3 separate regions of the Homo sapiens genome follow, and all the other regions are linked to region 2. Evidence: fine-mapped expression QTL. A gene starts in region 2. Each other region holds a variant in brackets. All regions are shown on one strand. Distances are between the middles of the regions. Region 1 overlaps POLR2B (RNA polymerase II subunit B). Region 2 holds the start of NOA1 (nitric oxide associated 1). Region 3 has its middle 29 kb from the start of REST.

What was found. PIP is the estimated chance that this variant, and not a neighbour inherited with it, causes the effect.
Region 1: its variant is the best candidate, but not a certain one, in a credible set for the expression of NOA1 in whole blood (TOPMed, PIP 0.81).
Region 3: its variant is the best candidate, but not a certain one, in a credible set for the expression of NOA1 in whole blood (TOPMed, PIP 0.57).

The regions. Positions count from the first base shown.
Region 1 is chr4:56,999,316-57,002,075 of GRCh38, reverse strand. It overlaps POLR2B (RNA polymerase II subunit B), which reads right to left. Exons shown (of 25, transcript NM_000938.3): 7 at 2,295-2,459. Among named protein-coding and RNA genes, the nearest start is that of POLR2B, 22 kb to the right of the region's middle. The variant A/C (reference allele first, on the strand shown) is at 1,370.
Region 2 is chr4:56,976,250-56,979,009 of GRCh38, reverse strand. It overlaps NOA1 (nitric oxide associated 1), which reads left to right and starts at 1,404. Exons shown (of 7, transcript NM_032313.4): 1 at 1,404-2,568. The coding sequence starts at 1,425. It overlaps POLR2B (RNA polymerase II subunit B), which reads right to left and starts at 114. Exons shown (of 25, transcript NM_000938.3): 1 at 6-114. The coding sequence starts at 24. RefSeq lists enhancers at 1,662-1,731, 2,112-2,171 and a silencer at 1,832-1,911.
Region 3 is chr4:56,877,843-56,880,602 of GRCh38, reverse strand. No RefSeq gene overlaps it. Among named protein-coding and RNA genes, the nearest start is that of REST, 29 kb to the left of the region's middle. The variant C/T (reference allele first, on the strand shown) is at 1,306.

The sequences.
Region 1 (2,760 bases), 23 kb before region 2:
AGCCTGGGTGACAGAGCGAGACCCTTTCTCAAATAATAATAAGGTATGTAACTACTGGCAAAATCTGAAAGTAAAATCTAACCAGAACCCAATTTTCTCATGTAACCACACCAACAAATATTCAAATAACTAAAATATACTCCCTGTTCTAACTTTGTGACAAAGATTTAGCCTGCAAAATCTGTGACAAAGATTTCTCTGTAGTCTTAAGCGCTCTGGACAATTTAAGACAATTTTAAGAATATCATTTACTGTTCAGATAAGGAGCATCAATGGAAAAAATTTATAAGGAACTGGACATTTAACCTCAAAAATCCTTCCCATAAAAGGTTCCCACAAAAATAGTAACCTTACAGTGGAGGTACCTAACAGACACCACTGTGAAGCGATCAAAGTTAACAGTACCATTAATGGGGCAAAATGACATCACATGACTCTTGTTGAGATGCCCTGGGAAGCATATAATATTACTTAAGTATTTTTTCTGCCAAAAAAGTGCATAAATTGAATCTAATCATGGGGAAATATGTGAAAAACACAACTGAGGACAATTCTACAAAATAAATGGCCTGTCCTCTATATACTTTGTTATGAAAGACAAAGAAAGGCCGAGGAGGCCAGGCACGCTGGCTCATGCCTGTAATCCCAGCACTTGGGAGGCCTACGCAGGCTGCCCCTCACTTGAGATCAGGAGTTTGTGACCAGTTTGGCCAACACAGTGAAACCCTGTCTCTACTAAAACTACAAAAATTAGCCAGGTGTGGTGGCACGTGCCTGTAATCCCAGCTACTCACAAGGCTGAGGCAGGAGAATCGCTTGAACCCAGGAGGCAGAGCTGAGATTGTGCCACTGCACTCCAGCCTGGGCGACAAAGCGCGACCTTGTCTCCAAAAAAAATAAGGCCAAGGAAGGATTGTAAAAGACTAAAAAGACATATAATCAAAATGCAATGCGTTATTCTGAATTGAACTCTGAACTATAAAAGAGATTAAACTTGAATTACTATATACTATTAATGTACAGATCTTATTACTTAATAGTTTTCAATATTATCAGGACAACTGACAAAAATCTGAGTCAGATCTGTACATTAACAGTATTGTTGTAATCCTATCACTTTGGGAGGCCGAGGTGGGCAGATCACCTGAGGTCAGGGGTTTGAGACCAGCCTGGCCAACACAGTGAAACCCCGTCTCTACTAAAAATACAAAAATTAGCTGGGCGTGGTGGCACGTGCCTGTAGTCCCAATTACTTGGGAGGCTGAGGCAGGAGAATCACTTGAACCTGGGAGACGGAGGTTGTGGTGAGCCGAGATCGTGCCACTGCACTCCAGCCTAGGCAACGGAGTGAGACTCTATCCTCCCCCCC[A/C]AAAAAAACAGTATTGTATCTAAGTAAAATGTTCTAATTTAAATGATTATACTACGATTATTTAAGTGAATGTACTGATTCTTAGGAAATATACACTGAAGTCTTTAGGAGTAAGAGGCTATTGGCTATAACTTACTCTCCGATGGTCCAGAAAAAAAATGTGTTATATATAGAAAGAATGAATGATAAAGCAAATGTGACAAAAGTAACAACTGTTGAATTTGGGTGAAGAGCATATAAGACTTTTATATATTATTCTTGCAACTTTTCTTATTTTGAGACAAGGTCTTACTCTGTCACCCAGGCTGGAGTGGGGAGGCATGATTAGGGTTCACTGCAGCCTCCACCTCCTGGGCTCAAGCGATCTTCCCAACTCAGCCTCCGCAGTAGCTGGGACTACAGGAACATGCCACCATGCCTGGTTAACCTTTTGCATTTTTTGTAGAGACAGGTCTCCCTGTGTTGCCCAGACTGGTCTTGTGGACTCAAGTGATCCTCCCGCCCTGGCCTCCCAAAGTGCTGAGATTATAGGCGTGAATCACCATGACTGGCCTTTTTGTAACTTTTCTGTAAGTCTGAAATTATTTCAAAATAAAAAGTTAAACAACAGGTATCAACTACTCATTTTCCCTTTTTACTAAATTGCACCAAGCTGGTGTGCTTCTGCGAGCTTCCTTACCAATGTTTCTTCTTGCTGCTGTCATTAACTCCAGCTGCCTCTGGTTTTCATGTCTATTTTACAACAAACTGTCAGAAAAGAGACCCAGGCAGGGCTGAAAGCTTTCACTACACAGTAAATGGCATAAGATTTGTGACAGCTAAATTACTCTTCAGAACAGCTTTCTACTATGTTTTAAGGTTAGCAACAATCAGTAACTCTAAATCTCTTATAAAGCTCTGTGAATACATTTTGCTTTCACATTACCATTTCCATCATCTCTGGATCTTCAAAATCATAAATAATATGTTCTAAAATATCTCTGTCGGACACAAAACCTAATGCTCTGAACACAATAATGATGGGAACTTCTTGCTTGATATATGGTAGAGTTGCCACAATGCGCTGACCAATAGCACTCTTCTTGGCACCCTAGAAAAATAAAGTATCATTAGAACATGAATATACAAAAGCTCACAGCAATATAAAAACACCAAGAGAACTATTTAATATATATATATTCTTTGTGCACATTTCAAAAGAAGCACGCCTCCCAATACTGTGAGGAACCTCCTATGACTGCTTTTCAAAACCACCGAAACAAGTATACTAATTTTACATACAGGCTCAGGTCACTTAGACCTGAGACAACTTCCATTCTCTCCTATCTGCATGCCAAGATTCTCTCAGAATTACCCAATACTGTATTTGGAAATCACTTTTGGCTGCAAAA
Region 2 (2,760 bases):
CCTACCCTCATCCGCGTCGTACATATTGCCAAACGGTTCTCGAGCTCCTAACTCTTGAAATCAAAAGACAAAAACCGCCCAGAAGCCAGCAGCGCCAGGAGCTAAAGACGAAGTAACTTCCGTCTCCGACGTTCCCAGAATACCACGCGTCTCACACCAAAGGCCGCCCACAGGGACGCCAAAGTTAGGATCTGCGCCTGCGCAAATTGTAGGTCAAGCTTGGGCCGGGGTTAGGGTTGCACACGCGTAAATTGTGGGCCGCCGCTGCCGGGCTGATTGAGAGGACAGCTCCCGCAATCTGCGGTCGTATCCGTTCCGTCAATGTTTTATTTCTGCTTGTTTTTCAATGTTGTTGCACAAATAACGACACCTGAAAACAAAACCAGGTATACTTATTATTAAAAAGTGTTCGTCCTGTGAATCCGCAACATTGGGATGCTCAATTTATTTGCCTTTATAAGGACCAAAACACGAAGCTATTTTTTATTTTTATTTATTTATTATTTTTTGAAATGGAGTCTCGCTCTGTCGCCCAGGCTGGAGTGCAGTGGAGCGATCTCGGCTCACTGCAACCTCCGTCTCCCGGGTTCAAGCGATTCTCCTGCCTCGGCCTCCCAAATAGCTGGGATTACAGGCAAGGGTCACCACGCCCGGGTAATTTTTGTATTTTTAGTAGAGACGGGGTTTCACCACGTTGGCCAGGCTGGTCTCGAACTGCTGACCTCAGGTGATCCACCCGCCTCGGCCTCCCAAAGTGCTGGGATTACAGGCGTGAGCCACGCGCCCGGCCGGAAGCTCCTTTCTGTTTTTGTTTTGTTTTGTTTTTTTGAGACAGGCTCGCTCTGTCGCCCAGGCTGGAGTGCAGTGGCGCGATCTCGGCTCACTGCAACCTCCGCCTCCCGCGTTCAAGCCATTCTCCTGCCTCAGCCTCCCGAGTAGCTGGGACTACAGGCGCCCGCCACCACGCCTGGCTAATTTTTTGTATTTTTAGCAGAGATGGGGGTTTCACCGTGTAAGCCAGGATGGTCTCGATCTCCTGACCTCATGATCCGCCCGCCTCGGCCTCCCAAATTGCTGGGATTACAGGCGTGAGCCACCGCGCCCGACCCCGGAAGCTCCTTTTTAAGTGTGATTTATTAAGGGCGGCTTGTGCTAGCAGTGAGGCGTTAAGCCTGAAAGTGAAAAAACCCAAAACACTCACTGCTCTTTTCTGCCCACCTAGCTCAATCCTCCAGTGCCTTTGCCATAGCTTTAAGTAGGTTCTCAGTCTCAGAGCTTAAATCGCGAGAACTGACGGGATTAGACGCAAAACCAACCAGGACAGCTCCCAAGTACCCACGCGCTTTCGTCTCGGGTCAAATGCGCGCCTCGGACCCTAGTGCGCGTGCGCGCTGGTGGCTCCGCCCCTTTGGAGCTACTTCCTCATGCTGCCCGCTCGCCTACCGTTCAGGCTGCTGAGCCTTTTCCTTCGTGGATCCGCTCCCACGGCAGCGCGCCATGGCCTCCGGGAGCCGCTCCTGGAGAGGAGGTGCGCTGCCGCCTCCTCCTTCCAGCACTCATCGAGTCTGGGACGCGAGCTTCCTTATGACCCCGTGGACACGGAGGGCTTTGGAGAAGGTGGTGACATGCAGGAGCGTTTTCTGTTCCCGGAGTACATCCTGGATCCGGAGCCGCAACCCACCCGCGAAAAGCAGCTGCAGGAGCTCCAGCAACAGCAGGAGGAGGAGGAGCGACAGAGGCAGCAGCGGCGGGAGGAGCGGCGACAGCAAAACCTACGGGCCAGGTCCCGGGAGCACCCGGTCGTGGGGCACCCGGACCCGGCATTGCCGCCCAGCGGCGTGAACTGCTCGGGCTGTGGGGCAGAGCTGCACTGCCAGGACGCCGGAGTGCCCGGCTACCTGCCCCGAGAGAAGTTCCTCCGCACGGCGGAGGCAGACGGCGGGCTGGCACGGACCGTGTGCCAGCGCTGCTGGCTGCTGTCGCACCACCGGCGCGCTCTACGCCTGCAGGTGAGCCGCGAGCAGTACCTGGAGCTGGTGAGCGCCGCGTTGCGGCGGCCCGGCCCCTCCCTGGTGCTCTACATGGTGGACCTGCTGGACCTGCCCGACGCCCTGCTGCCCGACTTGCCCGCGCTGGTGGGCCCCAAGCAGCTGATCGTGCTGGGAAACAAAGTGGACCTCCTGCCCCAGGATGCTCCTGGCTACCGGCAGAGGCTGCGGGAGCGACTGTGGGAGGACTGTGCCCGCGCCGGGCTCCTGCTGGCCCCTGGCCACCAAGGGCCACAGCGCCCCGTCAAGGACGAGCCACAGGACGGGGAGAATCCGAATCCGCCGAACTGGTCCCGCACAGTGGTCAGGGACGTGCGGCTGATCAGCGCCAAGACCGGCTATGGAGTGGAAGAGTTGATCTCTGCCCTTCAGCGCTCCTGGCGCTACCGTGGGGACGTCTACTTAGTGGGCGCCACCAACGCCGGCAAATCCACTCTCTTTAACACGCTCCTGGAGTCCGATTACTGCACTGCCAAGGGCTCCGAGGCCATCGACAGAGCCACCATCTCCCCTTGGCCAGGTGAGTTTTAGGAGGCTCGCCCTCTTCGTTTCCTGGCAAGGTGGACGTCTGGTCCTGGCCGAGGCACCGAGTACATCCTCCCTTAATGTCCACTGCGGGCTGCCTGTACCCTTCCCTTTACAAATTCTCTCCCCACTCTGGTCACACCTCTCTTCTGTGTCAGCTTACTGCTAGGGAAAATTGAGGATGTGT
Region 3 (2,760 bases), 98 kb after region 2:
AATCTGGCATTGTGTATGACTGTGGCAATAGGTCCAAACACAGCCCAGCTGAGTCAAGATGCAGATTATTGAGTGCCATGTAAGGATGTGAGTGCCAAGAAGCCCTGGACCTCTTTCCTTTCCCAAACTGTTTGGAAGGCCTTGAGTTAGCACCTATGCCACAACAGTTTTAAAGTGTTGCTTCTTATAAACCTGATTACTATTGACATTTTCAAACATATCAACGTAGAGAGAATAGTGTAGTGAACTTTATATATCCATCACTTGGTAAAGCACTGCTTTTTTTTTTAATTCAAAAACTAGCTGAGTCACATGGGAAGGTCCACGAAAAAAGAGGAAAAGACACAAAGTGCACGACTGGTTTGTAGTCCTAACTGTGCTGTGAATGAACTGTAATGCACTGAGTCATTTATGGTTCCACTCTGGGACTCAGTTTCCTAGTTAACTGAGATGGGATTTCTGGGGACTTTCCAGGCCTTGCATCCTACACTTTGGTTCTCATTCACTCCACATACACTCATGAAGCCACCATTATCTCTTGCCTTAGCTAATCTCCCTTTGCCCATTCCTGCTTCTCTACATTCCATTCTTCTTCTAGCAGCCTAAGAAAGATCAACTTTCAGAAATCCAAATCTCATCATCTGATCACATCATTCGCTGCTAAAATCTCCTCAGTGCTTTCACATTTCTTTCTTTCTTTCTTTTTTTTTTTTTTTTTTGAGACAGAGCTTCACTCTTGTTGCCCAAGCTGGAGTGCAACGGCACGAGCTCGGCTCACTGCAACCTCCACCTCCTGCATTCCAGTGATTCTCCTGCCTCAGCCTCCCGAGTAGCTGGGATTACAGGCACACGCCACCATCACGCCTTGCTAATTTTTTGTATTTTTAGTAGAAACGGGTTTTCACCATGATAGCCAGGCTGGTCTCGAACTCCTGACCTCAGGTGATCCGCCCACCTCGGCCTCCCAAAGTGCTGGGATTGCAGGCATGAGCCACCACGCCCGGTCCACATTTCTTTTCTTTTTTTCTTTTTTTTTGAGATGGAGTCTCGCTCTGTTGCCCAGGCTAGAGTGCAATGGCACGGTCTTGGCTCACTGCAACCTCCACCTCCCAGGTTCAAGCGATTCTTCAGCCTCAGCTTCCCAAGCAGCTGGAACTACAGGCGCGTGCCACCACACCCACCTAACTTTTGTATTTTTAGTAGAGATGGGGGTTTCACTATGTTGTCCAGGCTGGTCTTGAACTCCTGACCTCATGATCTGCCCACCTGGCCTCCCATAGTGCTGGGGTTACAGGCGTGAGCCAC[C/T]GCACCTGGCAGGCCCACATTTCTTTTAAAGCAATGTTTGAACTGCTTAACAAGCCTATGAGGAACTGCCTGATCTTGACCTCTCTTAGCAGCTCAGCCACACTGACCACTTCCAGCTTCAGCCTCCTTCTGTGTGCTGTTCCAACTACTTGAAGGGTTCTTCTGGGTCTCAGCACCCCACCTATCCCCATTTCACCACAGACACACTTTGCTTGGGCAACTTGCTTTCATTTTTCAGAAATCAGCTTAAATGTCATATCCTCCAGGAAGCATTCATCTGAACTCAACCAAGTCCTGCTAAAGCTATATATGCTCTGTTAGCCCCCAGTACTTGGATTAAGTGGCCCTAAGCACCATCTTAATTAATTAGTTATTTGTGTATTATTTTAATGACTGATTCCCCTAACAGACTGTAAATCCCATAATGTCAGTATTTGCTGTTTTGGTCACCATTACAACTCCAGCACCTAGCACAGTGCCTGGCACAGAATAGCCATTCAAATAAATATTTGTGGACACATGACTAATTCCCTGCTAGGCCTTAGGGATAAAAAGAAGCTCACAATTTAGTGGAGAGTACAGACTGATAAGTCAGTGGGAAGATGAAAACGCATCTCTAGAAGTGCTGGGGGGAAAAGAATGCATGACATCTGAGGAGACCCATGAAAGGGGTGCTTAATGCAGGCTGGGTCAGAATAGGCCTACAGGAGAGGCAACAGTGACTTTGTGGAGGAAATCCATCCATAAGCCTCAAATGCAGAGCAGTATCTGTAGGGAGGGGTGGGGTGACCCTTTAAGAATGTTTAGAGATTCCTACTTGATATTTTCCCTGACTTATTTGGCCTGTAGTCAGGTGCCATCCATTAGAGAATAATCACTGAAAATTTGTCTGCTAGCAAGTTTAAGGTCATCTTGAACTGAAAGTCGAAATAAAATGGACTTAAATGAAATAAGCCAGTCACAGAAAAATAAATACCCTATGTTCTCACTCATACATGGAAGCCAAAAAAGTTGATCTCGGGCTGGGCACAGTGGCTCATGCCTGTAATCCCACCACTTTGGGAGGTTGAGGCGGGTGGATCACGAGGTCAGGAGTTCGAGACCAGTTTGGCCAAAATGGTGAAACCCTGTCTCTACTAAAAATACAAAAAATAGCTGGGCGTGGTGGTGTGAGCTTGTAGTCCCAGCTACTCAGGAGGCTGAGGCAGGAGAATCACTTAAACCCGGGAGGCAGAGGTTGCAGTGAGCCGAGATCATGCCGCTGCACTCCAGCCTGGGCGACAGAGTGAGACTCCATCGCGGGGGTGGGGGTAGTTGATCTCATAGAAGTAGGGAGTAGAGGCTGGGTGTGATGGCTCATGCCTGTGATCCCAGCACTTTGGGAGGCCAAGGGGGAGTTGAAGCCAGGAGTTCCAGAGCAGCTTGGCCAACATGGTGAAACCCCATCTCTCCTAA